Linked DNA regions of Homo sapiens: region 1 is linked to region 2. The links come from fine-mapping of genetic effects on gene expression. Tissue or cell type: activated CD8 T cells. Region 2 holds a variant in brackets; the other region holds the start of a gene. All regions are shown on one strand. Distances are between the middles of the regions.

The links. PIP is the estimated chance that this variant, and not a neighbour inherited with it, causes the effect.
Region 1: TSG101 starts here. The variant in region 2 is fine-mapped to the expression of TSG101 in activated CD8 T cells (Schmiedel 2018, PIP 0.95).

The regions. Positions count from the first base shown.
Region 1 is chr11:18,522,299-18,530,298 of GRCh38, forward strand. TSG101 (tumor susceptibility 101) reads right to left here and starts at 4,644. Exons shown (of 10, transcript NM_006292.4): 1 at 4,477-4,644. The coding sequence starts at 4,518. UEVLD (UEV and lactate/malate dehyrogenase domains) reads right to left here. Exons shown (of 12, transcript NM_001040697.4): 12 at 7,311-8,000. RefSeq lists an enhancer at 4,804-4,913.
Region 2 is chr11:19,192,572-19,200,835 of GRCh38, forward strand. All of the region lies in intron 1 of CSRP3 (cysteine and glycine rich protein 3), which reads right to left. CSRP3-AS1 (CSRP3 and E2F8 antisense RNA 1) reads left to right here and starts at 4,142. Exons shown (of 6, transcript NR_183675.1): 1 at 4,142-4,348. The variant C/A (reference allele first, on the strand shown) is at 4,598.

The sequences.
Region 1 (8,000 bases), 670 kb before region 2:
ACATGACCAAAACTGAACTCCTCATCTTCTCCCCAAATTTACTTCTCCAGTGTCTTCCATATGTGTATACATACATATCCTTCCAGGTGCTCAGGCCAAAAACCATGACATTATCCTTGATGCCCTCTCTTTTCTTCACATCCACAGCAAATCTGTCAAAATATCCTGTTAGCTTTGCCTTCAAAATACATCCGGAATCTCCACAGCTACAGTCCTGGTCTAAGCCACCAGCACCTCTCACCTAGATTACTGCAACAGCCTCCTTACGTGTCTCTGCCTCCATCGTTAACCCCCTACAGTCTAGTCTCAGCATAGCATCTAGAGTAATATTGCTAACAGCTGAAACACAGCAACGGCTTTTCATCATACTCCAAGTAAATGCCAAGGTCCTTACAATGGCCTGCAAGGCCCTCCAAACCTCCCATACCATTGATGCTGTCTAGACCCATACCACCACTTTCCTCCCTTGCTCACTCCAGTCTAGCCACCATACCCTCCTTTGTTGTTCCTCTATCATGCATGACAAACTTCTGTCTATGAGTCTTTGCATTTGTTTTTCCTTCCTTCTGAAATGTTCTTACCCCAGATTGTTCCAGGTTTGTTTTTTTCTTGACAGGATCTTGCTCTGTCACCCAAGCTGGAGTACAGTGGTGTGATCACAGCTCACTGCAACCTCAAACTCCTGGGCTCAAGTGATCCTCCCATCTCAGCCTCCCAACCAGCTGGGATTAGAGGTATGCACCACGCCTGGCTAATTTTTTTATATTTTTAGTAGAGAAGAGACAAGGTCATGCTATGTTGCCCAGGCTGGTCTGGAACTCCTGGCCTCAATGTGATCCTCTAGCTTCCGCCTCCCAAAATGTTTGGATTTCAGGTGTAAGCCCCATGTCAAGCACACAGTTTCTTTACCTCTCTCAGGTGAGCTCAAGTAGATTTTTTCAGAAAGACCTCTCTTTACTATCAGATATAAAACGGTGACTCATCCCATTTCCACACCCTAGCATTCCCCATTTCTTCCCTGCTTTATTTTCTCTAAAGCACTTATCACTTTCCAACGTACTTCTTGATGTATTTATTGAGTTGTTTATTGCCTTCTATAAGAATTTAAATTCCAGAAGCACAGTTTCTTTGTCTGATTGTTCACTGTTGCATCCCTAGAACCTAAAACAGTGAGGGACATATCAATCTTTATTTTATTATTTTTATTTATTTATTTGTTTTTGAGATGGATTCTCGCTTTGTCACCCAGGCTGGAGTGCAGTGGCGTGATCTCAGCTCACTGCAACCTCTGCCTCCCAGGTTCAGGCAATTCTCCTTTCTCAGCTTCCCGAGTAGCTGGGATTACAGGCGTGCGCCACCATGTCTGGCTAATTTTGTATTTTTAGTAGAGATGGGGTTTCACCATCTTGGCCAGTCTGGTCCAAAACTCCTGACCTCAAGTGATCCGCCCACCTCAGCCTCCCAAAGTGCTGAGATTACAGGCATGAGCCATTGCACCTGGCCAATTTTGTTATAGTTTAAAATGTTTATTTTTTACTTTTTGAGACAGGTTCTCTGTCATAGCTCACTGTAACCTTGAACTCCTGGGCTTAAGTGATCCTCCTGCTTCTGCTTCTCAAGTAGCTAGGACTACAGGTGCAAGCCACGAAGTCTGGCTGATTTTTAAATTTTCTGTAGAGACAGAGTCTAGCTATGTTGCCCAGGCTGATCCTGAACTCCTGGCCTCAAGTGGATTCTCCCATCTCTACCTCCCAAAGTATTGGGATTACAGGCATGAGCCACCACACCAGGCCCACAGTTTTCTTCTACTCATTTAGCAGTGACTGTGCCTCTAGAAATGCTGTAGATAAACTATGTAAAAATATAAGTGGCTGTATGTATGAAACATCTAAAGTGGGAAGTTGTTTCTGTAAAAGAAGAAGGACTAATCTGGTATAAATATATCTGTTAATTGCAAAAATAACAGAGAAAGGTGTTGAAAGTTATGTTGAAGTTGGGAGCTAAGATAATGCTCAAGGGAAAAAAAGACCTTTTATAATAAACACATAAAACATAAGGCAGGTGGCCAGAGTACCATGATGTGTGTGGAGAGCCTACAATCAGATAAAGAGAAAACAATAATGACCTTCACCCTAGCTATGTGTTCAGGGTCCTGGCTAACAATTCTTACATCAGACCACACCAGCTGAAAGGAAAACATTTGAAGCCCTTCTTTAGGAGGAAGGAGCCCCACAACTGCTTCTATTACTTTACTTCCTATTCTTACCTGTCTAAAATTCATAGGTTGGACAGTACTAATGCTGATGCTCAGAATCGTCATAATCACATACAGGAGTCTCAATTTTCCAGATATTGAGTCAAGGACCAAAAGGCAGGTAGGATGCCCTCTCCCACCTCTTCCCTACCTCTGTTTTTGTTTCTAAAGTAATCACAGGTTGGGTGGAGGGGAAGGCAGGTAGAGGTATAAAATATCTTCTGAACATGCCTTGCCTTTGTCTTTGATGGCAGGTTTCTCTAGGGAAGCTTAGGAAACTTAATTAGGGTATAAAAAATAAGCTAATATTTGAATATTCTTGCTCTTTATATGAATATACATACATTAAGGAATAAATCTTTTTTTTTTTTTTTTTGAGATGGAGTCTTGCTCAGCCACCCAGGCTGGAGTGCAGTGGCCTGATCTCGACTCACTGCAACCACCGTCTCCCAGGTTCAAGCGATTCTCCCATCTCAGCCTCCCGAGTAGGCTGGGATTACAGGCACCCGCCATCATGCCCGGCTAATTTTTGTATTTTAGGAGACGGGGTTTCACCATGTTGATCAGGCTGGTCTTGAACTCGTGACCTCAGGTGATCCACCCGCCTTGGCCTCCCAAAGTGCTAGGATTACAGGCGTAAGCCACTGCGCCCAGCCCAAGGACTAAATCTTAATGACTATGCTATCAATTTAAAGATCAAAAATGTCATGGAGGCCAGGTGTGGTGGCTCACGCCTGTATTCCCATCATTTTGGGAAGCCAAAGCGGTGGATCACTGAGGTCTGGAGTTTAAGACCAGCCTGGCCAACATGGTGAAATCCCGTCTCTACTAAAAATACAACAATCAGCTGTGTGAAGTGGTGGGCACCTGTAATCCCCAGCTACTTGGGAGGCTAAGGCAGGAGAATCGCTTGAACCTGGGAGGCGGAGATTGCAGTGAGCCAAGATCGTGCCACTGCACTCCAGCCTGGGTGACAGAGCAAGACTCTAAAAAAAAAAAAAAAAAAAAAAGAGTCATGGAACAGATACTCTTCAGTTACATACTATGTAAAACAATATACCGTTTTTTTCAAAAAGTGATATATAAAAGTTACAACATGGATCTTTACCTGGGTCACAATCTTCTATGGCTTCCCATATGTCTTCTATAACTAAGGATAACAAGTTTATCAAAACAAAACCAAGAAGCCTAAAATATACGATTACACAACCAATATATGCTTTATTTTGAAAGCTGTCATTTTCTCCTTAGAGATTATTTGGTCTTCAATCAAGAACTATGGGGGCGATTTAACTGGAAAAAGTCTGTTTTTAAAAAAGTTTTACACATAATAGTGTGTTTTATTAAAAATTGAAACCGCTTAAACCGCTGATTGCTACCATTCTTGCTTTGACAAAACTATCCCAAGCTAACACGTTGAACTGGTCAAGACTCAACTCTCAATCATTTTACATAGTTTTGGAAAATTACAACAAAACATAACAAAAGCCATTCCACTCTGGTGTGAGGTGCCACGTTTGAAGTAATTATATAAATAAATCATGGCTTTAAAATACAAAATGCTTAACTGCTTTTTTAAAAATTGAAAAAAAAAACACTAGTCTTGAGCCGTGAAGATCATAAATTAAGCTCAAAGCAAATAAATACGCGTTATAAGAAGCATACACTTAAAAGTAGTTACTCTTAGAAAATCCCTGAAATGGTAATGGTATGTATTTCACCTGGGGCAGTAAGGGACTGGTATTTTCGCTTCTTTTCTGGAGAATACAAAACTGAAAAGGCCACACTCTCTGCGGGTCGGCAAAAGAAAGGCTAAGACTGGAGGATCCCTAGATTGGGACAGGAGTAGAGGATTGCCTCAGATCTACAACTAAGTATGATCCCTTGTTTGTGTTTATAAAAACAAACGAAAAACTACACTGCCCCACAGACAGCTCCAAACTCAGTGGAAGAGAGGAGGGCGGGTGGGCGGCAGGTGTCAGGTAGCCTCCGCTCCACGCCTTTGTTGACTGTCGCCGTCCCCCACCCTCCCAGCTCCCGTACGGGGATTCCCGCACCAGGCGACAGGCGCCTCGGGGCGGGGTTCTGAGGAGGTCGCTAAGGACTGCACCGGGGCTTCCGGCCCGTCTGGGAAGCTTGCTTGGCTGGGCCGGGACGGACTCGACAGGGCGCGGAAGGGAGCGGTGGGCGCGCCCTGGGAGGCGAGCGCGTCGCAGCCTCACCTTGGACACCATTTTCTTGAGCTGGCTCTCCGACACCGCCATGACGGCCGCCTGGCGACTCCCTTCCCCGCAGGCAGAGGGTCAGCCGCTGCTGGGCTGCCCCAGACCGTCCCACACAATCGCACACCCCCAACCCGGCCTCAAACAACAGGAAGTCGGCACCACTACACCACTTCCGCTTCCACTACGTCACTTCCGGGCCGCCGTCCTGCGGGCAAGGGTGGACACCGTGTGGGATTGAGAGGGGCCTGGTGGGGTGGGTTCCAACCAACCCGCCCCTCGAGTGCCGGAATCAGCAGGACGAATCGGGTCCCAAAGATGTGGGCAAGACTGTTCCGAGGGTCGAAACTCTGGTTCAGGATAAGATTAGCAGGTATTTCACAGAGTCGACTTAAGGAAGCTAGTGCCGGAGAGGGAAGAAGTACGAAGGGCTTGCCAGTGAGCCTTAATGACTGATTGATCAAGTGGGAGGGCACTGCACTGGCGGTCAGAGAACTGTTCTGTCACTGACTTGCTCTTGTGATAATGGTAGGCTAGTGCATTTCTAGCTCAGGCGCAAATTTCTCCCGACTCTAAAGTCATACACTTGCCTTAGATGATGCCCAGTGGTCCTCTAATTAATGATTTTTTTTAAGCTTAAAGACCTTCATACTATACGTTGGCAAGGGTAAAGTGTAGAGCCTTTGTTTCACAAGAAGCCAGATAGTAATTTCTTCTCCAGGAAATCATTCCGTAAGTCAGAATTTCTCCTCTGTACCCACCCATAAATGATAATACAGGCCGTATTTTACCTGGTGCTGTATTTGTGTACCTGTCCGCTGTCAAAATCCAAGCCCTTGAAGGCAGGCTTCCTTCAGATCTTCATTGCCTTGCACAATGCAAGGGTAGGTACTTCCATCTTAATTGAATTTTTACTTCCCATAAAAATTCTTCATGGTGACTTACATTAGTCATCATTACACATCACCGTCAGTTTTGTAAGCACAGTGTCATTCAAGGTATTGTAAAATTTTGAGTTTGATGATGTGTGACAGTTTCAATTATTTTAGTACAGCCCTAATGAGAACAAGGCCGTAGTATTGATTCCCTTCAAAGTTGGCGTCTAAGTGAAGGTCACATTCACAAGGAGGGCCTAACTGAAAGCATGTGGAAGCATCATTATAAACTGTTGCTAACACGCACAAATAAAGGCTATTAATAGGTATTGTTTTTCTTTTTCTTTTTCTTTTTTTTTTTTTTTTGAGTCACTCTCACTCCATCGCCCAGGCTGGAGTGCAGTAGCACCATCTCGGCTCACTGCAACCTCCGCCTCTGTTTTTCAGCTCCTTAGTTAAGCATACAGCTCCAGTCAAACCAAACTAGAGGTCTGTCTGTCCTTCCATTTTACTTGCTGTTTTATGTCTTTTAAAAGCAAGAAGGTTTTCAAACTGTTCTTAAAGCCACGGCTTAACCAGGAGTCCCTTTAATTAGAGCAACTGTACCTTTGTGAGTTGGAGGAATGCCAGGTAATATATATTATTTATATATTTTATAAATGCAACATTTATAAATATTAAAATAAATTTTACATATATATATATATATATATATATATATATATATATTTTTTTTTTTTTTTTTTTTTTTTTTTTTTGAGACAGAGTTTTGCTCTTGCTTCCCAGGCTGGAGTGCGATAGTGTGATCTTGGCTCACTGCAACCTCTGCCTCCCGGGTTCAAGCGATTCTCCTGCCTAAGCCTCCCGAGTAGCTGGGATTACAGGTGCCCACCACCACACCCAGCTAATTTTTTGTATTTTTAGTAGAGACAGGATTTCACTATGTTGGCCAGGCTGGTCTGGAACTCTTGACCTCAGGTGATCCACCCGCCTCAGCCTGCCAGAATGTTGGGATTACAGGCGTAAGCCACTGCGCCCAGCCCATTTATATATTTTTGTTGCCCAGGTCATGGTGCAGTGATGTGAACATGGCCCACTGCAGCCTCGACCTCCCTGGCTCAAGTGATCCTCCTGCCTCAGCCTCCCATGTATATTGGGACCACATGCGTGTGCCACCATGCCCAGCTAATTTTTAATTTCTTTGTAAAGATGAGGTCTTACTTTGTTGCCCAGGCTGGCCTCAGAACTCCTGGGCTCAGGTGATCCTCCCACCTTAGCCTCCCAAAGTGCTGGGATTACAGGTGTGAGTCACTGTGCCCAGCAATATATTGTTTAAAAAAGCTTTCTTGCTGCATGTTTACTATCAGTCTTTTGCAATCTTTTAGGGTCAACACTATACCTCAATATAAAGTGTTAACTTCTTATCTATTTCATTGGAACCATGGAGGATTGAATGTGTGTGGGGAAAATGTCTTTGTGGTTTTAGAAATATGCAAAATCAGTTAATTTTTTAATGTGAAGGTAATAGTAGTTGAAATGCTTTTGAAAGTTGCTTGCCATTTCAACACTAAAGATGAGTTTTTTTCCACTCATTAGGCATTTTGATTTCTATCCTCACGTATATTAGTGGAGAATTTTAAATCCTCCGATTATCACAGATGAAAACACAAATAAGCTGATGGTGCACCTGCAGTCCCAGCTACTCCATTGGCTGAGGCAGGAGGATTACTTGAGCCCAAAAGTTTGAGTCCAGCCTGGGCAATATAGTGAGAACCTGGCTCAAAAACAAAAAGATTTAAAAAGTTTTCTTGCTAAAAATAATTTTTAAAAGTTTGAAAATGATAAAATCTAGTCTCTTCATTTTACACAAAATAACTAAATATCCTGGGTACTGTGTGAATTATATGAAAAAAATTCCTTAATCTGAATGTTTCACTTAATAAATGAAGCATCTCCTGGTGATTTTAAAATCAGTTTATTTTACTCATTATTCTTAATATTTAAGGAAAACAATGTAAAATGGGAAAAAATGTATCTTCTGCTACATCAAAAAAGCATTTTAATCCAAACCCCACTAAAAATTATAACAAGCTCTGCATGATTTCATAAAAATGAAAACATGAAAGTTAACAAGCATTGAAAATGCCAAATTATCACAAAATCATAGGGAGGTGGTGGTGGTGATATTGCTTCTTGACTTACACTGGGATTTACAACATGATTACTAATACACTTAACACTCAAGGAAATATCTGATACAGAGAATTACTTCTACATTGTGGCCTTCCAGAGGGCAAAGACTATTATTCATCTTCGAATAGTCAAATTCTAACACAGTATTTGGAGTAACAGTAGGTGTTAAATAAACATTTGTTGTATTGACATGTTCCTTTTATAATTAATGTAATGATTTCTTGGTAATTTATTATACAATATTTTCTGGTTAGATTATTGTTCAAAAGCATATTACATATTATCTAACTTTAATTAGATATCAAATATTAGAAAAGGCTAGTTTTAAAAACACAAGAAATAGTTCTTTCAGTTTTACTTTCCTATTTCATAAAAAAGGACAGTAAGAATACATTGTTAGAGTAACATGAACTAATTCACGTGCATATTGAAATTAGATAGAACTAAATGCTTTTC
Region 2 (8,264 bases):
AATTTTTTTTTAGTGTTTCATTTATTCATTCATTTAGCAAACAGCTACTGTGTGCTAGTCATTAAATAAGCTCAGACACTTAGATGGCTTTGGGTAATCACTTTACCACTTGGGAACTCAGTTTCTTCTCCTGTTAAATTTCAGTAACATCTATTCCTATGTATCTCACAGGGCTCCCGGAAGGAATGAATAGGCTAATTTCATGTACATAAAAGTATATACAAAGATCGTTTTTTTTTTCATCTCAAGTTTAAAAAATTATCCCATCAGAACTGGGAATCATCTGTGAAGATGGTATTTTCTTCTTGTCTAGCTAAGAGCTTCTCAAATCACCTTAGACCTTGCTAAATGCAGATTCTGGTTTGGTAGATCTGGGGAGAGGCAGGAAATTCTGCATTTCTAACAGACTCCAGGCAATATTGATGCTGCTGGCAGTGGACTACATTTTGGGTAGCAAAATCTTAGCTTATCTTGCTGATAGAAAAGCATATTAATAATATATAAAATCTCCTATTCCAAGTTATTCCTCATATCCATACATTCCTTTTTAAGAATATAATCACCTAGGCTATAAGATATATTGGCACTACACTAGGTCAGTAGTTGGAAACTTGCTTTCTGCTTTCAGGGCTACCCTCTACCTGCTGTTCATATCAGGATGAACTACATAGCTTAACTTTATACCTGTTTTCCCACCTATACAGTTATTCTTTTCCCTGCTGCTTTAGTGTCCTTTAGAAAATCAAACGACATGATGTGCAGGAAGGTCCCACAGAGTTCACAGTGCTCAACAGGAGCCAGACCATGGTGCTGACATGTCCTCCTGCACCATTGGAGACATTCAGCTACAAGGAGCTGCTAATAGCCACAGCCCCAGGACTGTCATTGTCTCCTCACCACAGGATTACATTTAAGAGATATTAACCAAAGAAAATTATTTAAAAAAATAATTGTCCTCTGTATTTTTAGTAGAGACGGGGTTTCACCATGTTGGCCAGGCTGGTCTCAAACTCCTGACCTCAAGTGATCTGCCCGCCTTGGCCTTCCAAAGTGCTGGAATTACAGGCTTGAGCCACCGTGCCCGGCCTAAACAAAAATTAGCCAGGTGTGGTGGTGGGCACCTGTAATCCCAGCTGCTTGAGAGGCTGAGGAAAGAGAATCACTTGAACCCAGGAGGCGGAGGTTGCAGGGAACCAAGATTGTACCACTGCACTCCAGCCTGGGCAACAGAGCGAGACTCCGTCTCAAAAAATAAATAAATAAATAAAATAGTAATAATAATTGTCCTCATCTGCATATGTTTTTAGTATGAATCCAAGTTTTCAGTTTCCTCAAAGCAGAACTAAAATAAGCCATTGATGTTAAATGAAACTTCTGAAATTCAGCTGCCCAGGGGAGCTGCATTTTCACTGGGATCCTCTGGTTTCTAAGAAGCCTAGTGTGTCATGACATGGAGCACTATCCAGCCATTCTGAGTGGCTGCTTGTGACCTTCACTTTCCCTTCTGGGAAGCCAGTCACCTTCTTATAATAGTTGGCGATTAACACTAAGCCCTCCTGGGTCAACTGGTCCGGATTGTATCTCACAGTCTCATAACAAAGGCAGTTTTTTGCTAAGAAACAGAAAGTAAATAGCAAACAGACCACTGAACCTGATACTAGGTCTAGAAGGAATGTTTCTATCTAAATATTCCCCCAAAGAGCTTTTCCTGCTTAGAAAAACTGTGAGGTTAGCCAGGAACATCCTATCCTTCCTCTCACAGAAGTAGGATCTTCTGCTAATTCAGTAAAATTTTAGAAAAGAACTTTAAAAAAGGAAACATTGGGCTGGGCATGGTGGCTCACACTTACAATCCCAGGACTTTGGGAGGCCAAGGCAGGAGGATCACTAGCCCAGGAGTTTGAGACCAGCCTGGGCAACATAGTGAGGCCCCTGTCTCTACCCCACCCCCCAAAAAATTACCCTGGTGTGGTGGCATGCTCCTGTAGTCAGTCCTAGCTACTCAGCAGGTTGAGGCAGGAGAATCACTTGAACTCAGGAGTTCTAGGCTTCAATGAGCTATGATCACACCACTCTACTTCAGCCTAAGTGACAGAGTGAGGCCCTGCCTCTAAAATAAATAAATAAGAATTTCTTAAAAAATGGAAGCATGTGGTTTTTCTATTTCTGTAGTTCGGGTTGTTTAGGAAACTAGAAAGAGTAATGGATTTTGAGTTGAAAGACTTAGAATTAAAACTCACATTCATTCGTTCATTCATTCATTCACCCTGCATTTACTACCTGCCTATCATGTGTCAAGTACTGCACTAAGTACTCAGTGACAAAAGGGGGAAAACTTATAAAAATGAGTAGTTTGTGACCCCTGGCATTGAGAAGCCCATGTTGTAGTGAGAAAAATAGACAAGATTCAGAATGCTCTGTACCAGAGAAGAGTCTTGTGAGACATGCTACAGAAACTCAAATGACGGACTGGCTCCCCACATTTAGTCTGGGGATAAAGGCAGTGAACTGTTGGAGGGTCACAGAAGAGATCACATTCAAATGGGGGTTTGAAGGGTGAATAGGAGTTCACCAGATACAGAAAAGTGGGAAGGAATAATGCTAATGAAGTCATGCAGAGAAAAGAGCAAGCAGAAAGGCGTAGAGGCCTAAATAGCCTCTAAAATAGCCCAAATTTGTTTATTTTGGACTCCATTTAAACTACAGACTTTCAGGGCTGGAATAGATTTTTAAGATTGCTGGACCCTCTCATTTATAACCAAGGTGTATTTAAAAGTAAGCATTTAGGGATATTTTTCTTAGCCAACTTCTTTTTATACAATCCATTCTTCTCTCATTAAAGATGTTACATTTTCTAGAAAAGAATAGACTCACATAATTTTGCTCATGTTCATTTTGATCCTGAGTTTCAGCATGATACAAAATAGAGGAGAAATATAATAAATTTCCTCCAGGAACATGGCAGCGACACTTGTAAAATTAATGATATAGAAATTTTCAATGAAAACAACCTTAGGTCAAATTTCTCATTTCAGATTTGCAGTGGAGATTTCATTGGCATGTCTTGCAAGTTAATAGGAGACAGAGATACCTCTTGGGGGATAAAAATACATATATATCTGTGTGTGTGTGTGTGTGTGTGGATTCATTGCCTAGGCATACTTTTCAAAATGAGAATAGGATTACAGATAATACCTCCTTCACAAACTAATGTATCCTAGCACTGGTTGTTTTTAAGCGATCATAAATATCTGACATATATCATCAGGACTTGAAATTTAAAATATAAATCTGTAAGTACTCTATTAATGATGCTCAGTTCCATTTCTGAAGATGGGAATGTAACCATGGAGGCTAAACAGAAGATGTCTCACAGGCCAAAAGGTAGAGGATATTTTAAAGCATCCTGAATCCAGGCCAGGCATGGTGGCTCACGCCTGTAATCCCAGGACTGAGGCCGAGGCGAATGGATCATGAGGTCAAGAGATCAAGAACATCCTGGCCAGCATGGTGAAACCCCATCTCTACTAAAAATACAAAAATCAGCTGGGCGTGGTGGCATGCACCTGTAGTCCCAGCTACTCAGGAGACTGAGGCAGGAGAATCACTTGAACCCAGGAGGTGGAAGTTGCAGTGAGCTGAGATTGCGCCACTGCACTCCAGCCTGGCGACAGAGTGAGACTCCATCTGAAAAAATAAGTAAATAAATAAATAAAAAGGCATTCGGAATCCAGAGACATGGATTCTAATCTCGACCTTGAACTCGGGTAAAAAATGTTGATAATAGTATCTCCTGGGCAGGACCATTGTGAAGGTCATGGAAATATGATGGAATTTAAAGCAGTATTGAGAAATTATTTTTTCCCACTTCACTTTAGGTTACTCAAATGGCACCAATGTGCTAATTAAGGAGCTATGATTTGAAATCCCAGTTAGGTCCTGGCTTATGAACATAACCTTTTCAGCTTCCCGCATTGCTTTGGAATTCTTGTGTCCCAACACTCCCCTAGACACTCCCAGAATGTGAGCTTACCCTGGCAAGGTACCAAGGGATGGGCCATTTGTTTATCAGCGTTGCCTGGTACTGGCAAGGGTCATTGAAGGTGGGATACAATTATAGGCTTGCCCGTCACTCGGCCCTGTTTGTAACCTGGGTCACAATCTCCATCATACCACCTGGCACGACTCTCTGGGCCAGTCCCTGAGATGACTATGTTGTCAAAGACAAATCGTGGGTCAAGATTGAAATGGGGGACAGTCTGGAATTTACGAGGATGAGATAGAATGGACAGCCCTGTGACATCAACTTGGAAGAGGTTGGACTCCAGATTTGGATACTCAGATCCCGGTGAGAGACTACCTTGTGCCCACTTTTAAACTAAGATGTAACTAATACCATAGAAGAGATTATACTAGGAATGTGCTTCAGTGGGGCAGTGGGAAAAACACTGGATCAGGTGCCAGAGGCTGGAGTTCTAGTTCCATTTTGCCTCTTCGAAGCTGTGTGATCTGGGAAAACCGTTCAATCTCTCTGAACTTCAGTGTCTTCACTAGAATGAGGGCAATAATCCTTTTGATTTCACTATTGCTGAGAGGA[C/A]CCTATTAGTTCAAGTACTGTCATATCATTCTGTAAATTGTAGAGTAATATAAAATGTGAGAACCAATTAGGTTCTCCCACAATTTTAAGTTGTTATTCATCAATCTGAATTTTCAAAAGAATAACTAAACTGTGTATTTTGGGCACATTCTTCCTAATCCAACTATTTCTCCCTCCCTCCCTCCCTCCCTCCCTCCCTCCCTCCCTCCCTCCCTCCCTCCCTTCCTTCCTTCCTTCCTTCCTTCCTTCCTTCCTTCCTTCCCTCCTTCTTTCCATCCTTTTTCCTTTCCTTCCCTCCCTTCCTCTCTCCATCTCTTTCTCTCCCTCTTTTCCTCTTTCTTTCTTTCTTTCTTTCTTTCTTTCTTTCTTTCTTTCTTTCTTTCTTTCTTTCTTTCTTTCTTTCTTTCTTCTTTCACTACCAACTATAAAGCTGAGCAATGATGAGTTAGGGCAAAAGTGGTGGGTACATAAAATGAGCACCCAGGAGGGAACTTTAGGCCATGACTTTGGGCAGAGACCTCAAGCCACAGTGCCACAATGCCACCGTTTTCAGCTCAGTGCTAGCTCAGTTGGTCATCCTACTAGATGCCTGATTTCCTGCAGTGAGTTCAATTGTCTACACTGGCTGAAGCAAAGATTTTGGATCATAGGAACATATATATATATATATATGGAATCTAAGCGATAGTAATAGTCATTTCTAACTTTATTATTGAAGTTAACATGCCTGGAGCACTGCCCTTGGGTATCGTTTAATCTTCACAACAACCCTTCAAGGTAGGTGCTATTATAACATTTACTTTACAGATGAGGAAATGGAGGCTTTGGGAAATTACATTAGTCCAAGTTCATGGGACTGATATGTGTCACATGAATAGATTGGAACTTACGTTTCTCTGACTCCAAAGCTTTACATATATTATTTTATGTCAGTTGCTTTACATATATTATTTTTTAATACTTACAACAGCTGCCCAGAGCAAATTTTATTTCCATTTTTATGGATAAGAGAACTGAAGAGCTTAAGTAGCTTTTCCAAGGTCACACAGCTAGTAATTGGAAGAGCTGCCATTTAACCCCCCGTTAAGCTGGTTCTGTATCTCATGCTCCTGTTTATAACACTGGAGAGAGGACAAGGGTCAGCACCTCCATCACCCAGACTTCCCAGTTGATGGGAATTGAGACGTGACCAATCCATTGTCTCTCCATGGGACACAGAGGGTATTCAAGGGTGGGACTAACAGGGAAACTGAATTCATTCACTGAAATCAATGACTTTCTGAGTTACGGCTGTTCAACATGGAAAGGGCTTCCTTGGAACTGGAGATTTCTTCTGCACTATTGATTTTCAGCTGAGGTGGGGACGGATGTCCAAGTGGCTGCTATACAGTGAAGTCCCTTCAAGGGTCCTTTAAGCCCTGAGACAGATTTAAGGATCTGAAAAGTGATTGAAACCTCACTTTGCAGAAAAGCTGCCCAATGGGGTGCCCTCTCAAACCCTCTCCTTTATTCACTCTTAATTTGGGTAAGAAAGATGACATAGCCACAGTGAAAACCATGGGCTTTGGAAGAACCAAGCTTAAGTTCAGAAACACTAACTGTTGAACACTGGGCAAGTTGCTCAAATTCTCTGACCCAGTGTCCTCAATGCATGTCCTCATGTAAAGACAATATGAGAAGGCTTGTCTGGGAAGGTTGTTTTCAGGTTAAAGAAGATAATAATAGCTAAGACACCATATAGAATTACTTAATACATAGCAGGAATTGAATAATTGTAGTTACTTGCATCATGACTATTATTGTTGTTATTACATTATCTCCAGTTTTCAAGTCTGTTCTTTTAGAACAAACAACTCACTCCCTGCTTGTTTTCCATGGCCCTTCTGGTTCAGACTGTGAATCAGCTTTGTTTTTCAGCCTTTGGAGTGTGCGGTGCCCCAGGACAGGTGTGCCCAGGTCGGGGTGAGAGTCGGTCCCCTTGCGTTGTTGGATTGGGTTGGAGGCAGCATGCCTAGCCAGGGGCCCTGTAGTCTGGGGAGCTCATGCCCTTCAGTTCTCGGTGTAGGACATTCAAGGTCAGTGGCTGCTTCCTCCTGAGCTTCTGAACCCAGATATATGACGTCCTCCGGCCAGAGGCCCTTTCACAGAGCCCAGGAAGAACAGGTTGCTCATTGCCAGCATGGAAATAAACCTGAGTGTTGGCTCTCAGCCCCTTTTAAACTCAGACATGGTAGACATACATTAAATGAAGGCTGTAGAACATGGGCATCTTACACCTTTTGTGAAATTATATCTGAAGCGTGGCCAGCTTTTACTTCCCAAAACTCACTCTTTGTTCTATTTTGACCTCTACAATTTATTTCTAAAGACCACATCATATCCCAGTTTACCTCCTGGCTCTGCCGCTTTCTCAGCCATGTGATGCTGGGCAATTCCTAAGCTTTCTAGAACTTTAGTTTCTTCCTCTGAAAAATGAGTTTTGCATAACTTTTTGTGACCCTTAAATAAGCTAGTACTCGTTCCATGCCTGCCTAGGCCATAAACGACCATCAAATCATGATCAACCCTTTCCCACAGTAAAGCTCAGAAAAGGCTCCATCCTCAATGCCCTTTAAGACCATTACTGTCTCCCTTCCTGCCATTCTTCACTGGGATGAATAACTGCAGTTTTTCACATTTGCAGGCATCACATTTCTCTTTGTGCATGAAGCCCAACCCTCTATACAGTATTTATTCACAGATATCTGAACAGCACACTTGTAACTGGAAATCTGTCTGCCTCAAGACTTGTATTTCCTGTGTGTTATATTCCTAGCCCTGGGTCTTTCCTCTTGTAAAACAAATTAATTATCTTCTAACTCCTGGTCAGCTTCTTACCCACTCTGACCTCTGGACTTTTATCAGCACGCTTGTACTTAGCAGGAAACCCCCCCAAAACCCACTGGGTTTGGCTGTATGCCTTTTCTCAACGTTCTCACATATTTGTACGGTTATATTAAACTTTACAAAAGTACTTTCCTATACTTTATCTCATTCAATTCTCACAAGTCCCTTTGATAGAGGTAGGCTACCCTTAGTTTTATTGTTCAGAAAATGGAAACTCAGATAAGTTAAGTGATATTCAGAGCTATAATTTGAACGGGCTCTATAACTGATTATCTTTATTTTCTTCTTGAATATCCCAGGATTTCTGAGTTTCTATTCTATCAAGATTCTGTCTCCACTTCCTCCAAGGGAATTTTGGCTATTTGCTGGCTGAATGCTGCTGCAGCTCCCTCTTCCTTCATTCCTCTCTTCCTCCCTTCCTCCCTCCCTCCTTCTCTCTTTCCTTCCCCCCTTCTCTCCTTCGAAGGAGGAGGCCCCTTGCCCTGTGTCTCCTGTTTCTGATGGATGACACGTGTGTCTGGGCTGCAGAGCACCTGTCTGCCTGAACCCCAGGGAGGACACAAAGCCCTGGGGCTCAGCTACACCTCCTGCCCAATAGCCTGGGCTCATTGCCACTGACCACAAACGACTGAGTTGTTCAGAAAGGGAACAAAGCCAAGTCATAAGACTCCCTCACATTTTCTGGATCATAAAGCAGTTCTACATGCATTGTGATGAATTGTATGTACCCAGCATTGAGATTTAATCCCAGATGTAAACTGAGGACACAGGCCATCCCCAA